Regions from separate parts of the Homo sapiens genome. Here region 2 is linked to region 1. The links come from fine-mapping of genetic effects on gene expression. A gene starts in region 1. The other region holds a variant in brackets. All regions are shown on one strand. Distances are from middle to middle. Region 1 holds the start of GRAMD1B (GRAM domain containing 1B). Region 2 overlaps GRAMD1B (GRAM domain containing 1B).

Region 1 (9,332 bases):
CTACCCAGTCTTAGTCATTCAGGCCAGTCCTTAACCAGCCTTACACTCGGTAAATGTTTATCATCTATCCCAAATCCCCCATGCTGCACTCTACAGAAATGCATTTCCTCTTGCTCAGCAGCAAAATGAGAGCTGCAGAGTGAAATCTGGCCATCCTTCATTGTGTGTTTGAAGACAGTCAACATTGCTCTCAGCATCATCCACGTTTCTGTCCGTATTTCCAGCTTCCCTGCCAGCCTCAAATTCCACTTCTTCTATGCTCACTGCCTGCTTCTTTCCCTCATAATGGGCCAACCGTTGGGATTGGCCGTTCGAATGTTGTGTAGGGGAGAGACTCTGTGTCCCAGTGTTGAGAGTGGGGATTGTCTGTCTTGCAACAACAGTGTTGTGGGGAGACATTCCTGTGTCTTTGGGAGTTCCCTGCCTTGGCATCCTGGAGCAGGTGCAATAAGGTGTCCGGGGTGCCAGCGCCTTCCAGTTCACATTTACTTGGATGTGTACCCAGGAGAAATCTAGTCTGGAAGCTACTATGTTTCACTAAAGTTTTCCCCTGGAAATTGAATAATAATAGTAGTTTATGAGTCTCCAGAAGTAATAGACAGGTGTTGGGTGTCTTGTGTCTGTAGGAAAAGGGAGCTTGTGCAGCTGAGAATAAACAACAGTTGCTTGGTAATATGACCTCCTTTCATTTAAAGTCAGAGGCCTGGCTGCAGGTGGGGAAAGGGGAGGCTGGGTTGTTCTGGTTACCACCTGTCTGGGGAAGCGGGGAATGGGGGCAAAGGTGAGGTCTGTTTCACAGAGAACTGTGCGGTCGCTGAGAGCCAAATATTGGAGAGAAGAAATATGGGAGTGGGGAGACTTGGGGAGCAAGTGCAATCGCTGAGATTCTGACGCAGGGCATGAAAACTCTTTGGTTCTGATGTTGGCACCAGCTACTTTGAGAAATTGTTTCTCTACACTTTTGGAGGCCTCTAAACTGGCTTCAGAAGGCATGAGTTCCAATTCTGGCCTTGTCATTGATTAGCCATCATCATTTATCTGTGACCTTGGATAAACTACTGAATCTCTCTGTCCCACTTTCATCAATTGTAAAGGCCGCTGGGAAGACACAGTGTGATGTATGAAAGCTCTTTCCAAAAGTGTAAAGGTCACCATACACATAACAAGCACAGGATACTGGAGAGAATTAAAGGAAGGAGAAACTTGATTCTTTTCTCAAGGAGCTTATAGTCTTAACAGTAATGTTGGCTCACAGCTGTAGGGCATTTCATATTTCAAAGCAGTGCCTCATTTATTATCTTACTTGCCAGAGCCATGGGCAACAGAAACAGCTGGAAAGGGCTGAAGGATGTGTTTTGAACAGGGTTTTAACGGTCAAAAGGGTTATGGCTTGAAAAAAAGAAGGGACTGCAGGTGCAAGTGAGTAAGGACAGCGTTCAGGCTAAGAGAGCTCAGGGTATCTGCTTCCCAATCAAGTGAAACATTTTAGATTCCTGCTTGGAGGTTTTCCCTCAGGCCGGGTGAAATGTAAATGATCACTCTTAGCCACTGCTGTGCCCAAGGCTTGAATTAAATCTCACAGGATTTCAGTTCCAGAATCTACTGTGAGTGGGAAAAGTGGCTGAAGTGTGTGGGAAGAGGGTGCTGGTGGCTTTTCTTCCTTGTAAGAGGTATACACTTAAATTCAGAGTGCCCAGAACAAACTTAAAGCTTCCTCCCTTGTTTCTTCTCCCTCTTCCCAAGCTGCCCATAGAATCTTCTGGCCCCTGTCTTGTGGACCATCCTTTTGTGTTTTTGGCCTCCAAGCGAATGGTGGTGTCCTGGCTTCCTTTCTTCCCATAAGCCCCTGAGACCCTCATCTTCTATGTCAAGAGCCCGCCCAAAACTCAGGTTCCTTGAACTGGGAAGTTATCAGATCCCTTGCAAAACACTCGTCCTTGGAGGAAGTACAAGGCAGTGAACAAACTCTGTGGAACTTGGCTTAGCTCCCGATCCTGAAGTTTGGAGTTACAGTGCAATCTCCTCAGCATCCCTGGAGCCGGAAGAGGTGACCTTGGCAGGCCTGACACCTGATGGCAAGGGGTTTCTGCTTTCTGTGCTATGTCCAGGAGTTAAAGTAGAGTGAAACCAAATCACTCCTGAGAGGGCCAGTGGCTGGATTTCAGAAACGGGGGCTGACATTCCAGGGAGTCATTTATGGGAGGGCCTGGCCTTGGCTCTTCAGCCGCAGTATCTCTCTCCCTGAGGAAGAAATATTTCCCTTGGTTTCCCAGCCTCTCAAAAGTTGTGTAATGTCAGGATGCCTTGAGCTTTTCCATACTTGACAAGTGTCATTGCAGAGCTTGGTAGATCCATAGCCAGCTGTCATCCTTGATGTCTTGCTGAACTGCAGGGATGTATTTACTTGCAGTGAATTCTTGTGATCTTTAGGGATGTGAATTTTCCTCAGCTTCGGGACACTTGTGAAATGTGACTTTTGTCCTGGCACGGAAGCTGGGCATTGGCTCCCAGATGGAAACTGGACTCTGAGAGAGGCAGAAAAGAAGGGTGGATCAGATTGTGGACTTCATGGTATGTTCTTGGGTGCTTCTCATGATCTCTTTGAAAGTTACTGACCAGGCTGGGCATGGTGGCTCATGCCTGTAATCTCAGCACTTTGGGAGGCCAAGGTGGGCAGATCACTTGAGGCCAGGAGTTTGAGACCAGCCTGGGCAATATAGCAAGACCTCATATCGACAAAAAGAAATAAAACTTAGCTGCGTGTGGTGGTGCGCACCTGTACTCCCAGCTACTCAGGAGGCTCAGCTGGGAGGACAGCTTGAGCCCAGGAATTCAAGGTTGCGGTGAGCCATGACTGCACCACTGCACTCCAGCCTGGGCAACAGAGTGAGACTTTGTCTCTTAAAAACAAAACAAAACAAAACAGTTACTGACCCAAGAGACAAATGCATTGGGCTGGGGTTGAAGGAGGAGAATGGCTGCTACAGCCCTGCTCTAGGAGCTGGGCTGGGTTAGACTCAGTGCCCACAGAGAGCACCTAAATAGGATGGATCGGTTCTAGGGTTGATGATCTCTTAGGGCCTGGGTCTAGAGAGTGAGTGTGGTTCAGCACATCTTGGGATGCTACCAGGACTGAACCAGACTTCCTAGGTTCCATGACATGGGGACATACTGGATTCTGTGACTCAGTCCATGGCAGGCTGAAGCAGAACTGAATCAGCCCTCAGCAATGTAAGGGGGGGTACCCTCGACTCCCTGGGGCTCTGTTGGATGCATTGCTTTGTGGGTGCTCACCGACTCCTCATTTCATTCTTTGCTAGGGACGCGGCTATGGTACTGGCAGCTGGCTCATGTACAGGGTTCAGGCCCCATTTTCCTTACTGGTCCTGTGTCCTTTGTCTCTCAGACCCTGTTGTCTGTCTTTCCTTGGTATGTCATGTCTGGTATCCTCAGCTCACGCCGCCACGGGAGAACTGTCCTCTTCTCAGCTTGTCATTTTGGAAGCAGCCTCCAGCAACCTTGCTTTCCTCCTCTGACTATACTCCGGCCTGCAGTGCCACTACTCACGCCCCCAAATAATTTAAACTGCCTTTCTTAGGAGACAAGAGCTAGTTGAAAAGTCTCCTCATTTTCCTTCAACCCTGTATCATGGGTGGCCTGAGAGAGTGAGGACTGAATTCATTGACTCCCCTTTCTCTGCACCCCCCACCCCCAAGGAAATAGCCGAGTTCGACTAATGGGAGTTGCCTGGCCAATCGTTGCCCTGAGAAAGTTTGGTTTGTGATCCTATTTCAGTAGGCTGATTGGAGCAGCCTTTACTTGGAGGTCGAGTCCCTCCCCGAGGGAATCCGTGTACAGTTACACTAGCGGTCGCTGCCAGTGCTAGCCCATTCAGGATAGCCCCCCTCACCCCGCCCCCAGCCCCCGCTCCTCCTCCTCCTTTTTTGTTTTTATCCAGTGTCTCGCTTCCTCTCTCTCTCTCTCTCTCTGTCTCTCTCTCCCTTTCCCTCCTACCACTGCCTCTTCCTCCCGCTCTCTACCTCCCTGCAGCGCCAAGCCGGCTCCCCAACCTGGTCTGCTGAACGCAAACCGCTGAGAGTTTGCTGCACCGCCCCCTGGGGCCCCTGGCTGCCGAGTCCCGCTAAGGCAAAGACGCCAGCAAGCGAGGAAGCGCAGCGGAAGAAAAACAAGCGGGCGCGCGAGGGGAGCCCCAGGAGGGCTGCCGAGTGGCTGGCAGGCGGCTCCCGCCCCTCCCGGGTGGCCTCGCCGGCGGCTGACGGCCCGGAGGACGCGCGCTCCGAAAAGTTAGACTCCGGGCGGCGGCGCGCTACGCCGCGTCCCCTCGCGTCCCTTCCTCGCTGCGCTCCGGGAAAGGAACTTGTTCCTTCGGCCCCAGGATTGGGGAGTGTGCCGCGGGGCCGAGGGTGGGGAACAGCCAGAGGGAGACGCGAACCAGGCCGCTGGCGGAGGGCTCAGGGGGAGCGCAGAGGCGACGGCCCCCATGCCGGCGGCCAACATGATGGAGAACCGGCCGCTGCCCGCCCTGCAGGTGCCCGAGCCGCAGGGTGCGCCCGAGGGCAGCCCGGTCTGGTCCAGTTCGTCGACCCCCACGCTTCGCCGCCGGCGCTTCAAGATGCGCCGCATGAAGAACGTACAGGAGCAGAGCCTGGAGGCCGGGCTGGCCCGGGACCTGCCCGCCGTCTTGGCCCCCGGCAAGGAGTTCCTGCAGCTGCCGTCCATCGAGATCACGCCCTCCAGCGACGAGGACACCCCGTGGTCCAACTGCTCCACACCCAGCGCGTCCCCGCGCCGAAAACGCTTCCTCCTCCGCAAGTGGCTGAGGGTGAGGGAGCGGAAGGAGTGCAGTGAAAGCAGGTACGTCCCCGTTCCGCCCGTCTCCTTCCCTTCCCTCCCGTCCTCTCCAGAGCCGTCCAGGGCCCCGGGGCATTCTGGGGGAAACGTCCTGGGGGAGAACAGGAGCCCGTCACCAGAGGCGCTTCTGGAGGGCGCTGCGCCTGGTCCCAGGGATGGTGGCATTCAGCTTCCACGCGTGCCACCCGCTCCCCAACTCAGGGTGAGGGGCTTCATGTTGCACGACACGTTTACGTGGGGCTTTACGCTGCATTCCATCTCCCTTGATCCTCGCAGCGAAATAAATAATAAAAATAATAACAGCTAATAGTTATTGAGCCCTTACCATGTGCGGGCCACTATGTTGCGCACTTCATGTACCTCCAGATTTCATCCCTACGCAAACTCTCTGAGGTAGGTATTACTATGGCTCCCTTTCTACAGAAGGAGATAGTAAAAGGCCAGAGAACAGTTAAGTGGTTTATATTTCAGGACTCCGTTTCAATCTTATTTTATGTTTGGCCACACCGGATTGCCTTAACTGGCTCACTTGTGTGGAAGTGAAATATTGACATTGAGTGAGTCACATTTCCTACCATATCAGAGTCTTTAGACATCGATACCTACAAGACTGTGGTTTGTACCAGCTAGTTTTTTGCCTAGGTCAATGTGGCATCTGGGTAATGGGAGAAGGTTGAGCTTCCCTCACGTAGAGAATTGCTGCAGGGCGCCCTAGAGCAGCTCTACACAGCCCTGGTCAGGACTGCTGCTTCAGGAAGTTGTGTCTGAGCCAAGCCCCTTGCCTGGTGGAGGGCAGGGAGTCCTCACTTGTTCATCGGTACCACGAATCCTACATATTTACTTTGAGACTTTAGGGTCCTGTCTCTTAATGGATTTGTGTTCTTGTGCGGAGCAACTGAGTCATTGATCACTTTCCCTGGAATTCCTTCTCCAAATCTGTTCAATTACATTGATTTCAATTCAGTAAGTACTTACTGAATATTTCTGTGAGCTCAGTCTAGTAACAGCTAATAGTGGTGATGTTGAGGAGGGTGTGGGGGAAGGATAGGTAGAGTAAGGGGTTGTAGAGGCTGAGAAGGAAGATGAGGGGAGGCTTGTATAAGAAATGAACACCTGGGCACAGTGGCTCACACCTGTAATCCCAGCACTTTGGGAGGCCGAAGCGTGTGGATCACTTGAGGTCAGGAGTTCGAGACCACCCTGGCCAACATGGCGAAACTCCATTTCTGTTAAAAGTACAAAAATTAGCTGGGTGTAGTGGCAGGCTCCTGTAATCCCAACTACTTGGGAGGCTGAGGCAAGAGAATCGCTTGAACCTGGGTACAGGGGCTGCAGTGAGCCAAGACTGTGCCACTGCACTCCAGCCTGGGCCACAGAGTGAGACTCTGTCTCAAAAAAAAAAAAAAAAATTGAAGACCTGTGGGAGCCATTGGAAAACATACTGTGCTGTGTGGTACTGATTGTACTAGAAAAGAGAGAGTTCTGGAGAAGTAGAGGAAGACTTCTTGAAGGAAGAGGCTGACACCATGACAAATACAGATGGGTAGTAGAAAACAGCAGGAAAAGAATGAGGTTGGGTGCATAAGACTGGCTGAAGGGAACAATATGAAGAATGGCAGGAGAAACAGGATGAGCCATGTGTCTTTGCGGGGTGGGGACTGAGGAGTAGGATCCGTTATGCAGAAGATGGGCATTTTGGGCCTTCCAGAGTTTATCTTTTCTGTTTGCAACAACTGAGCATGGTTCTCTCAGCAGGTGCAGATACAGAGCTTTGTTCCGTGGATTTTTGTGGACGCTGGGGATAGAAGTTCTTTCTGTTTGGTACTTCATCCTGCTACCCTTTTCACAGAGTAGAGGGAAATGGGGCAAGCTTGGTGGGAGCTAACCTTGAACTAAAGTAGTTTGTCAGGCCAGGGGCGGTGGCTAATGCCTGTAATCCCAGCACTTTGGGAGGCTGAGGCGGGAGGGTCACCTGAGGTGAGGCGGGAGGGTCACCTGAGGTCAGGAGTTCGAGACCAGCTTGGCCAACATGGTGAAACCCTGTCTCTACTAAAAATACAAAAAATTAGCCAGGTGTAGTAGCGGGTGCCTGTAATCCCAGCTACTCGGGAGGCCAAGGCGGGAGAATTGCTTGAACCCGGGAGGTGGAGGTTGCAGTGAGCCAAGATCGCGCCATTGCACTCCAGCCTGGGCAACAAGAGCGAAACTTCATCTTAAATGAATAAATAAATAAAGTAGTTTGTCATGGCTTGTCGGCTTTTCCCTCCAATGTAAAAGAAACTAAAAGAGACCTTCTTTTGATCTTGAGATTCTGCCATATATACTGAGGACAAAATATGGTAAAAAGAGCCGGGTGCAATGGCATGGCCTGTATTCCCAGCTACTTGGGTTGTGGTGTGAGGATCACATGAGCCCAAGAGTTCAAGGCTTTAGTAGGCTATAATGGTGCCTGTGAATAACCACTGCATTTCAGCCATGGTGAGACCCCCACCCCCAACGCTTAAAATGTTACGTGCGTGTGTGTGTGTGTGTGTGTGTGTGTGTGTGTGTCTTTGTGTGTATGAAGAAAAAAATCTTGCATTGCTGGCTAGGATGGGGATGACAGTAGATTTGGTTAGATTTAGGAAGGTATTCCTGGTTTCGAGAGTTGTCTATGTGTGTAGTGGAACCTTCATTTTGTTGGATTTGGGGACATATCCTTAAAATTTGGCAGGATTTTCATCTAGATGTAGTTCAGGCAGTTATTTTAAGTGGTGACTTTTGGATTAGAAGAACCTATGTATCAGCCGGGCGCAGTGGCTCACGCCTGTAATCCTAGCACTTTGGGAGGATGAGGCAGGCAGATTGCCTGAGCTCAGGAGTTAGCCACCAACTTGGGCAACACGGAGAAACACCGTCTCTACTAAAAATACAAAAATTAGCCAGGTGTGGTGGTGGACACCTGTAGTCCCAGCTACTCGGGAGGCTGAGGCAGGAGAATTGCTTGAACCTAGGAGGTGGAGGTTGCAGTGAGCCGAGATCTCGCCACTGCACTCCAGCCTGGGCAACAGAGTGAGACTCCGTTTCCAAAAAAAAAAAAAAAAAAAAAAAACCACCACCAACAAAAAACAAGAACATATGTATCTGAAAAGGCAGACTCTGGATTCAAATTCAAATTCGTGTGACTCACATCTACTCTTAGCTACTGTTATACTGCCTTCTGTTGGAATCTATTTGGATTGTGTGTAAAACAAAGCCCCATCATTTTTAGGCCTCGAAGATGAAAGGCTTCCTTCCAAGAAAAGCAGCAATCAAGTGAATAGGTGCTCGTAGATACCACCAAGTGGCCTGAGAAGGAATTGGTGGCGGGGTGTGGTAGCTCATGCCTGTAATCCCAGCACTTTGGGAGGCTGAGGAGGCAGATCATTTGAGGCCAGGAGTTCGAGACCAGCCTAGCCAACATGGCAAAACCCTGTTGCTACTAAAAATACAAAAATTAGCTGGACATGGTAGTGCGCGCCTGTAATCCCAGCTACTCAGGAGGCTGAGGCATGAGAATTGCTTGAACTTTGTGGGCAAAGGTTTCAGTGAGCTGAGATCACACCACTGCACTCCAGCCTGGGCGACAGAGCAAGACTCCATTTCCAAAAGAAAATAGAATTGGCATTTAGAGGCAATGGAGTGCAGGGAACATTGGACTTAATATCAGAAGACAGCTGTATATTTAAGTTCTATCATCGATTAGCTATGGAGATTAGCTTGAGCATTTCACTTTACCTCCATGAGTTTCACCTTCTTCATTTGTGGAAGAGGATCTCTGTGGGTTAATGGGAAGTCTGAAGAGTAGTGAATGTGAAAATGTTTTGCAAACTTCCTCTTGCTGTGCAAGGGTGAAGGCTTATTTCATTACTCTGTGAGTCTCTCACATGGAATGGATGTTTGCTTAAAAGTATGAGGTTACATACTCACGTGTCCTGGAGCAGCACCTGAGCCTCCTCACACAATTCAGGATTTGGAAATGATGGTTGGAAAATGGCTCTGCTCTGGCCTGGATTAGGGAGGATTAGCATACCAGGCCCAGCATGACGTCTCCACATTCCCCACCCCAAATCTCCTGCTCCAAAAGAGAGAAAAACACCTTTCAGGCTTGCTATGAAATTCAGCGTGATGTGGTAGAAGTTAAGTGGCTGAGAGGGCCATAGCTTGTGGATTTCTTTTAATTTTTGTTTTTTCATTATTTGTTTCATTATTTGTTTGTTTGTTTGTTTTTTTACTTGTCACTGACTTGAAGCTCAAGCTTGCGGATTTTCACTGCACAAAGTTGAAAATATGAAGAGGATTAGGAGACCCTTTTCTTCTCCTTAAACCCTAGGAAGGAAGAAGTGGAACAAATGGTAAAGACAGCATGGCTTACTAACTTTCCAGTGTTCACTGGAATACTCCAAGACCAATCATGTTCATCTTTGTATCGTCACAGCACT
Region 2 (9,332 bases), 29 kb after region 1:
TGAGCCACCGCGCCTGGCCAGATTTTACAAGAATCTGCTTGTGAATTCCCTTCAAAATTAAAATTACACTGGAACCCCTTCTGATGATATGCATTCCACTCAATTGATCATTCATCCTCTACTTGCTATCGAACTGCTGCGCTCACCATGCAATACGGCATAGTTTGCAAAGCCACGGACTCTGGAGTGATCTGCATGGATTCTGTCCAGGCTCTGCCACTTACTCTCTGCCCTTAACATATTTTTTAGCTTTTTTGAGGCTACATTCTTCAGCTTTATTGTCTTTATAACACTTTGTACTTCTGAAATTATCATCTTCTTTTATTTTTCTCTGTTGATGATCTGTCTCTCATTTCTGCATCCCTTCTGCTAAACCATAAGAATTTGAGGTCCTTGAGAGCAGGGACCTTTGCCCCATCTGTTTATTACTGTGTTCCCAGTGGTTAGAAAACAGCCTGGCATATAGAAAACACTCAACCAGGCCGGGTGGGGTGGCTCGCTCCTGTAGTCCCAGCACTTTGGGAGGCCAAGGTGGGCGGATCATTTGAGGTCAGGAGTTCGAGACCAGCCTGACCAACATGGTGAAATCCTGTCTCTACTAAAAATACAAAAAATTAGCTGGGTGTGGTGGCACACACCTGTAATCCCAGCTACTCGGAAGCCTGAGGCACGAGAATCGCTTGAACCAGGGAGGTGGAGGGAGGTTGCAGTGAGCCAAGATTGCACCACTGTACTCCAGCCTGGGCGACAGAGAGAGACTGTCTCAAAAACAAAACAAAACAAAAAAGAACAACACACTCAACAATGGCATATCCATTTTATAGAATGAGCAACTGTTAACAGTTATCCTTCTTGTCAGCAGAAGCACCAGAGGGTTAAGAAAAAAGTTTCAGATGCCTTCTCTGCCCACCAGGAGTTTGACATTCTTGTTCTCTAAGGGCAGCATTGGTGTTGTGGAAAGAGCCCCGAGAGTCAGCAAACTCGAGTTTTATTCTTTGCAGTGCTACTAAATACCTCTGTGACTTTACACTTGTCATTTACCTTCTTTGGGCTGTTGGTTTCCTGTTTGAAAAAGAAAAAATTGGGGCCAAGTGTGGTGGCGCATGCCTATAATCCCAGCACTTTGGGAGGCTGAGGCAGGCAGATCACTTGAGCCCCTGAATTTGAGACCAGCCTGGGCAATGTCATGAGACCTCGTCTCTACAGAAAATACAGAAAATAACCAGGTGTGGCCAGGCGCAATGACTCACGCCTATAATTCCAGCACTTTGGGAGGCTGAGTCAGGCAGATCACTTGAGGTCAGGAGTTTGAGACCAGACTGGTCAAAATGATGAAACTCCGTCTCTACTAAATATACAAAAATTAGCCAGGTGTGGTGGTGCACACCTGTAGTCCCAGCTACTGTGGAGGCTGAGGCAGGAGAATCACTTGAACCTGGGAGGCAGAGGTTGCTGTGAGCTGAGATGGCGCCACTGTACTCCAGCCTGGGCGACAGAGGGAGACTCTGTCTCAAAAAAAAAAAAAAAAAAGAAAAAGAAAAGAAAGAAAGAACTAGGTGTGGTGGCACATGCCTCATGCCTGTGGTCCCAGGTACTCGGGAGGCTGAGATGGGAGGATTGCTTAAGCCCAGGAGGTCAAGGCTGCAGTGAGCTGTGATGGCACCACTGCACTCTAACCTGGGTGACAGAGAGAGACCCTTTCTGAGAAAAAAAGAAAGAAAGAAAGAAAGAATTAGAACAGTTTATCCCTCGAATCCCTTCCTGCTGTGAAGTATCGGCTCATGATTTTATTAATAAAATTAGAGATTGTTATAAAATGATAACCTGGAAAGAGAGTAACAGTTAAAGGACACACTTATCAAATGAGCATACAGGAAGTGAACCAGGAAGCCACATTTCTGTGTCTCTGTTAGCTGCCTCTAAACCACGTTTGTTCTTAGACTGCTATTCTTTCCCCACTGTCCAGCCAGCGTCAGCCTACCCTCGTGGTTTAGTTCACGTGTTTTAGAATAGCCAGCAACTCCCTTCTTTCTCAATCTTTGTGTCTTCCACTTAGCCTTCAAACAGGCTTAATGGAAGATTTCTTAGCTTAGCGTCATGGGACTTTTAAGGCTAGACAGGGCCTATGTGATTGTCTAGCACACTCTGTTCATTTTACAGATAAGCAAACTGAAGTTCAGAACAATGGGGCAACTTGCTCTGTGTTCTACGGAGTCCATGACAGAGTCAGTGCTGGACCCAGCCTTATGAGCCTGGCTCTGGTGCTATTGCTCCACTGTGCTCCGTGCTCTATTTTCCACATATTTTATTTTATGTATTTGTTTTTTGAGATGGGGTCTCACTCTATCGCCTGGGCTGGAGTGCGCTGGTGCAATCACGCTTACTGCAGCCACGACCTCCTGGGCTCAAGTGATCCTCCTACCTCAGCTTCTGAGTAGCTGAGACTACAGGCATGCACCACCGCACCTGGCTAATTTCTCCACTTTTTTGTAGAGACAGGGTCCTGCTATGTTATCCAAGGTGGTCTTGAACTCCTGGGCTCAAGGAATCCTCCTGCCTCGGCCTCCCAAAATGTTGGGATTACAGGCGTAAGCCACCATGCCTGGCTGCCACATATTTTAAATAGATGAGTACCACTTTATGCATGACTCCACGATAAGTGCGTATGTATGCTACACAGAACCTAGTTGGAGTTCTGAGAGAGAGAGAGAGGAGAGGGGAGGGGATTAGGGGAATTGGCTTACATGATTATGGAGGCTGAGAAGTCCCACAACACACCGGAGACCCTGGGATGCTGGTAGCGTGGCTCAGTCCAAGTCTGCAGGCCTCAGAACCAGAGAAGCTGATGTTGTAACTCTCGGTTTGAGGCCAAAGGCCTAGAACTCAGAGAGCCACTGAGGGACAGAGAGAGGAAGAATATAATCCAACTCTGGCAGTTCCATTCACATATTCACCTTTTCTCAGTTTTTGTTTTCCAGGCCCCCAGCAGAATGGATGGTGCCCACTCACAATGAGGGCGGATCTTCCGCACCTAGTCCACTCAGACTCACATGCTGATCTCTTCTGGCAACATCTTCACAGACACGCCCAAAAATAATGCTTTACCGGGTTCCTAGGTAGTCTTTAATCCAGTCAAACTGACACCTAAAATTAACCATCACAATTACCTTCTCACTAAAATCAATCTGAGAAGAAAATGGTCATAAAGAATTTGATGCAAATCCCTTTTTTGATTTATAGGATGAACAGTATCCTAGATAAGGAAACAGTGAAAGGCTGTTTTGTTTTTTTTTTTTTTTCCCCTCCTCTTCATACTCCCCAATGTGAGTAATGGGCAAAAAATTCCAGGAGAATGGGAGCATTCTGAGTGATAAGAACAAGTATCTCTCAACATGTAGAGTGTGTATACGGGTGGGTTATTTTCAAATTTCAAGTCTGCAAATGGGTAGTTCCAGGTATGGCTTGGTGATTGAAGTGGAGGTTCTTTTGGGGCTAGTCCTTTGTGCTCCTGTAATTTCCCCCCAACTCTGAGTCTGAGCTCAGTGAGAACAATCACTTTAATGCTTAATGCACACCGTAATACACAGCGGAGTTAACAGAATATTCAGACAATCACAGACACAATGGCCTTCCTAGCCATGAGTTTGGAAAAGTGTTTCTAGGAGCTTGTTGTAGCAGAGGCTGTGTAGATGACAAAGAACATGCACTGCATTGTAGATGGGTTATAGTTATGGTGACCAGCCCTTGGAGTTAGGGCAGATTGGGGTATTTGATTGCAAAGAAATAAGACACTTCTATATATTTTTTTTTAATTTGCTGATCATGGGAAAATCTTCATGAACCCTTATCTTCTTTTTTTTTTTTTGAGATGGAGTTTTGCTTTTGTCACCCAGGCGAGAGTGCAGTGGCATGATCTGGGCTCACTGCAACCTCCATCTCCTGGGTTCAAGCAATTCTCCTGCCTCAGCCTCCAGAGTAGCTGGGATTACAGGTGTGAGCCACCATACCTGGCTAATTTTCTATTTTTAATAGAGGTGGGGTTTTGCCATGTTGTCTAGGCTGGTCTCCAACTCCCGACTTCAGATGATCCACCCACCTCGGCCTCCCAAATTGTTGAGATTACAGGCATGCACCACTGTGGTCGGCCATATTCATGATTTAAAGGAATTGAAGATAAAA[G/T]AATTGAGTTTGATAAAAAAGAGAGAGAAGAATATTATTTTCTTCAAATACTGACTTTTAAGTGAGATAGTGTGCAAAAAATCCATATACTAGGTACTCAAATACCTGTTAGTTGACCCTTCCCCTATGATGTGAACTGGTTATTCACAACTATCTTTATACTTTAAGTCCTGTTCCTAAACACACACTGAGGTTCTGGAGGGCAGGGCTGGGTCTTAGGTAAATTTGTTCTGCTACCTTCTCACTGGACACCTGGCTCACCCAAAGCTTGCCTCTCATCTGTTTTCTGTGTACAGATTGCCATTCAAAAAGTGTTTTCTGAGTGAATGAATTATTTACTTTATGGAGCATCAACATCCTTTTTATGTTCTTGTCCATTTTTATGTCCTTGTCCTCACCCTTGTCCCTTCAAGTTCAGTGGGTCCCAGAACTGAACTTGAAGAGAGTTAATTGGATATAGGCCAGGAGTGTGATTGGACATACGTGTGTGTGTGTTTCATTAAAATTCTCAAACTAAAAATAAATGGTTTGTGGATTAGTCAACTTCTGTTTTCTTCTGCTCGATATCCTGAATTATCCAGTACCTGTTGCCTCCATGCTACTGAAAAGTGACCATGTGTGGTATGACAAGCTTATCAGAAGGCTGTCAAAGTGCTTGGCAGAGAAGACATGGAGTTTAATCCTGAGTGGAAAATGGCATTGTGGAAACAGATGAATTATAGTAGATGAATATAGTAGAAAATATAGTAGATGAATTAAAGTACATGAATTATCTACTTTGTGGACCATCAAAATCCTTTTTATGTTCTTGTCCAAGTTCAGTGGGTTCCGGGACTGAACTTGAAGAGGGTTAATTGGATATAGGCCAGGAGCGTGATTGGGCAGATTTGTGGCAATTACACCTAGACACCGTGACTCCAGCCCCAGTCAATGCGGGGATTTCTCCCCAGGCCCCCCAGGGCACTCTGTGAGTGTTAATGACCAGAGTTTTTGGTTAGGACTGTTTTTATGTCTTCCAATTGGAAAAAACAAGATAATGCTTTTACCATAAGCCAGTTTTTCCCGGGGCTAAGGGCAAATGAAATTGGATGGTGGTTGGGTCAGCAGGATTTGGGGGGCGGACAGGAGTGGGGCAGGGAAGGGGAGGCAGGAAGCTGAAAGGATTCTTTCTGGAAAACAGCACAGCTTGCGGGCTGCTTGTCCTTGAGCTCCGAGGTCACTAGAGCGGTTGGTCTTTGATAGGGTTTCTGCATGAATCCCCTGCTCCTACGTTTCCTTTGTCCCTTTAGGACCCAAGAATCCATCTGCCTTCCCAGGTGCATCAGCTTCTCCTTTCCTTGGGCGCCTCTTTCCTGGGCCGTCCAGGAAGAACACAAGGCTCTCTGTGTCTTTCCCACCTCGTGACCTTTTGGAATTCACATATTTTTGGCTTTTTAAGAGGTTTGGCTTGTGTTGACTAGAGGGAAACAGGTGATAGCAAAATTAATAGCCAGTTGGGAAGCCATAGTCATAAAAAATGTCTTAAAAACATATTGAGTCTTAATTGAGTTTGGTCTTCAATCAGATGTGAATGGACCAGTGCTCCTGTTGCCTGGGCTGCTTCTAAAATGTTCTTGTCAGTTCAGTCGTCTTTCTGGGGAATCAGCTGCCCCGACTGACTCCAGGTTGGCTCCTAAATCAAGCTATGTTGACTTCAGCTGGCAGAAAAGCCAAGCTGGCACTGCTACCAGGACTGTTTCCTAAGAGTCCCCCAGGGCACCAGCATTTCTGTCTGCAGCTGGCCGAGCCCTTGTGATTCCTGTCCTTGTGGCTAAATGAGGTGGTGCTGGCCTCTCTGGTTCCCAAAGACTCCCCCTTGGGCTGCAGGCCAAACGTCACTGGCCTCCTAGAAGTCTCTCCAGCCCTGGCTCTAGCTCTGGGAAGTCCTGGCCTATGCCTTGGCACACTGCTCTGTCTTTTTTGGATTGTCTATGGTTTCTTCCCCAGCTGGTTGTTGAGACAGCTCTACTTTTTGTTGTTGTTGTTGTTTTGTTTTGAGACAGAGTTTCGTTCTTGTTGCCCAGGCTGCAGTGCAATGGCGTGATCTCGGCTCACTGCAACCTCTGCCTCCTGGGTTCAAGTGATTCTTCTGCCTTAGCCTCCCGAGTAGCTGGGATTACAGGTGTCCACCACCACACTCGGCTAATTTTTGTATTTTTAGTAGAGACGGGGGTTTCACCATGTTGGCCAGGCTGGTCTCAAACTCCTGACCTCATGCGATACCCCCGCCTCAGCCTCCCAAAGTGCTGGGATTACAGGCATGAGCCACTGCGCCCGGCCAAGATAGCTCTACTTTCAAGTGCAGGTTTTTTTTTTTTCTGGTATGGTCATTTGTTTATTTCTTTTTTTTTTTTTTTTTGAAATGGGATCTTGCTCTGTCGCCCAGGCTGGAGTGCAGTGGCACGGTCTTGGCTCACTGCAAGGTCCACCTCCTGGGTTCACGCCATTCTCCTGCCTCAGCCTCCCGAGTAGCTGGGACCACAGGCGCCCGCCACCATGCCTGGCCAATTTTTCTGTATTTTTAGTAGAGATGAGGTTTCACCATGTTAGCCAGGATGGTCTCGATCTCCTGACCTCGTGATCTGCCCGCCTTGGCCTCCCAAAGTGCTGGGATTACAGGTGTGAGCCACCGTGCCGGGCCAGTCATTTGTTTATTTCTATGGTTTCACCTGTGGCTTTGTGACCTCAGTGGCAGGTGCCATCCCCTGACAAACTGCCTCAAACTGGGCAGAGCAGACTCGTTACTTCTTGTTTCAAGGTTTTCACTTGCCTTGGACTTCCCAGATGCTCTTGCTTTCTAGCTGAGGGCTGCCACCTGCAAAGCAGAGACGGCTGACACTTGTGGCAGAGTGAACATTCAAGCTCAGCTCAGCCCCTGAGTCCCAGCCCAAGCTCAGAGTCCCTTCAGTCTCATCAGTGAGGTTATCCCTGCCACCCACCCCTTCTCCAAGTGAATGCTACGCTCCAGCACTGGAGTGTGCTTAAGGTGAAAGAATAAAGAATTCAGGGACAAAAAACCTTAAACTGAAATCCCTGTTTCTCAGATGCTTGAAGGCAGCATGCTCGTTAAGAGTCATCACCAATCCCTAATCTCAAGTAATCAGGGACACAAACACTGCGGAAGGCCGCAGGGTCCTCTGCCTAGGAAAACCAGAGACCTTTGTTCACTTGTTTATCTGCTGACCTTCCCTCCACTATTGTCCCATGACCCTGCCAAATCCCCCTCTGTGAGAAACACCCAAGAATTATCAATAAAAAAATAAATTAAAAAAAAAAAAAAAAAAAAAGAAATCCCTGTTTCTTAGCTTACCAGCACAGTTTGCTCATAGACGTGCCATGTATCCCTGTGAAGTCTTATTTTCTTCATCTTTATTATTTATTTATATTTATTTATTTATTTTAAGATGGAGTCTCACTTTGTCACCCAGGCTGGAGTGCGATGGCGCGATCTCGGCTCACCGCAACCCCTGCCTCCTAGGTTCAAGTGATTCTCATGCCTCAGCCTCCCGAGTAGCTGGAACTACAGGCATGGGCCACCACCACGCCTGACTAATTTTTTATATTTTCAGTAGAGTCGGGGTTTCACCACGTTGGCCAGGCTGGTCTCCAACTCCTGGCCCCAAGTGATCCACCCGCCTTGGCTTCCCAAATTGCTGGGATTACAGGCATGAGCCACCGTGCCCAGCCTATTTTCTTCATCTTTAAAATGGGGATCAGAGTGTATACACTTCTTATTTACCTGATGAGGGTAAAAAGTTGGAAGCATATACATGGGAGCACTTTGTAGATGGGGAAGAAGTGTTTTAATGGGAAGGTTTATTCCTAGTATTAAATACAACATATTAGTATGCAGTATCTTGAATGAATTGAAAAAAGCAGCCAGAGTTTGCACTAAAGGAGGTGTTCTCTGATGTAGCCAACAGGTTCTCTCCACCACACGGGCAGAGCTACCGTCTCACTGGTAATAACTGTGCCAACTTGGATTTGTCATTAGTCCTATGGCTCAAAGGAGACAGAGCTCTGGGTCAGCAGAGAAAAAAGTCAATGAGTTAATATTTGAATGCACCAAGGGAAGGGACAGGCCTCTGTGTGACACAGCGCCCAATAGGCCAGGGTGGAAGATATGGATCATATAGAAGGGAAATGAAGAGAAAGTGGAGAGCACAACATGCACGAAGTTGCAGGAATGAATGTGCATGGGAGATTTGGGGAGCACGAGCCCCAGAAAGGAAAACTGTGTAAAGGCCTCAGGAAGAGCTTTCTGCTGGGGAAGTCAGTTTCATGTAGTAAGGCCTTGTGTGGCAGGCAGAAAACTTTGGACTGTATTCTATGACATTATAGGAAGACTTCAAGAGACTGTAACTTGGGAAGAGACTTGACTAGAGCTGTTTTAGAAGATAACAGGGGTGGGCCATGCCTGTAATCCCAGCACTTTGGGAGGCCAAGGTGGGAGGGTCGCTTGAGCCGAGGAGCTCAAGACCAGCCTGGGCAACAAAGGGAGACCCCATTTCTAAAAAAAAAAAAAAAATTTAGCTGGGTGTGGTGGTGCACACCTGTGGTCCCAGCTACTCGGCAGGCTGGGGTGGAAGGATTGCTTGAGCCTGGGAGTTGAAGACTGCAGTGAGCCATGTTCATGCCACTGCACCCCAGCCTGGGAGACAGAGCTAGCAAGACTTGGCCTCTAAAATAGTAATAATGATAATAATAATAATAACATCTAGGCACATTAGCATGCTGGGGCCAGCTGGCATCCACTTGTAGACGCCGATTGTGCATATCATTTCCCAATGCCAATTTCACCGATAGCAGAAATCAATCATGGTGGGAGTATACATGGCAGAAATTGGCAAATAATATAAATCAGCCCCCTCCACCAATCTAGTTGTTAAACATTTGTCAGCACAGATAAAGGACCGTTTCAATAGAGTGGGATGTCAGTAGTTTTCAAACCTGAGATGCCTGTTAAAACTCCTTCAGGCTCCAACCCAGGCCCCCTGAATCAGAATCCAGGATCAATGAGGGAATGGGAACCTTTTTCTTTTCTTAAAAAGTTTCCAGGTGATTCTTATGCAGCCAAGGTGGTACTGATATTTGGACTAGAGCAAGGATAATAG

Evidence for each region.
Region 2: its variant is fine-mapped to the expression of GRAMD1B in whole blood (INTERVAL, PIP 0.98).

What each region holds. Positions count from the first base shown.
Region 1 is chr11:123,426,292-123,435,623 of GRCh38, forward strand. It overlaps GRAMD1B (GRAM domain containing 1B), which reads left to right and starts at 3,978. Exons shown (of 20, transcript NM_001387025.1): 1 at 3,978-4,875. The coding sequence starts at 4,502. LOC124902776 (a long non-coding RNA gene) reads right to left here and starts at 4,923. Exons shown (of 2, transcript XR_007062928.1): 1 at 4,656-4,923; 2 at 1-2,525. RefSeq lists silencers at 4,116-4,445, 4,556-4,605.
Region 2 is chr11:123,455,408-123,464,739 of GRCh38, forward strand. All of the region lies in intron 1 of GRAMD1B (GRAM domain containing 1B), which reads left to right. Among named protein-coding and RNA genes, the nearest start is that of GRAMD1B, 30 kb to the left of the region's middle. The variant G/T (reference allele first, on the strand shown) is at 4,180.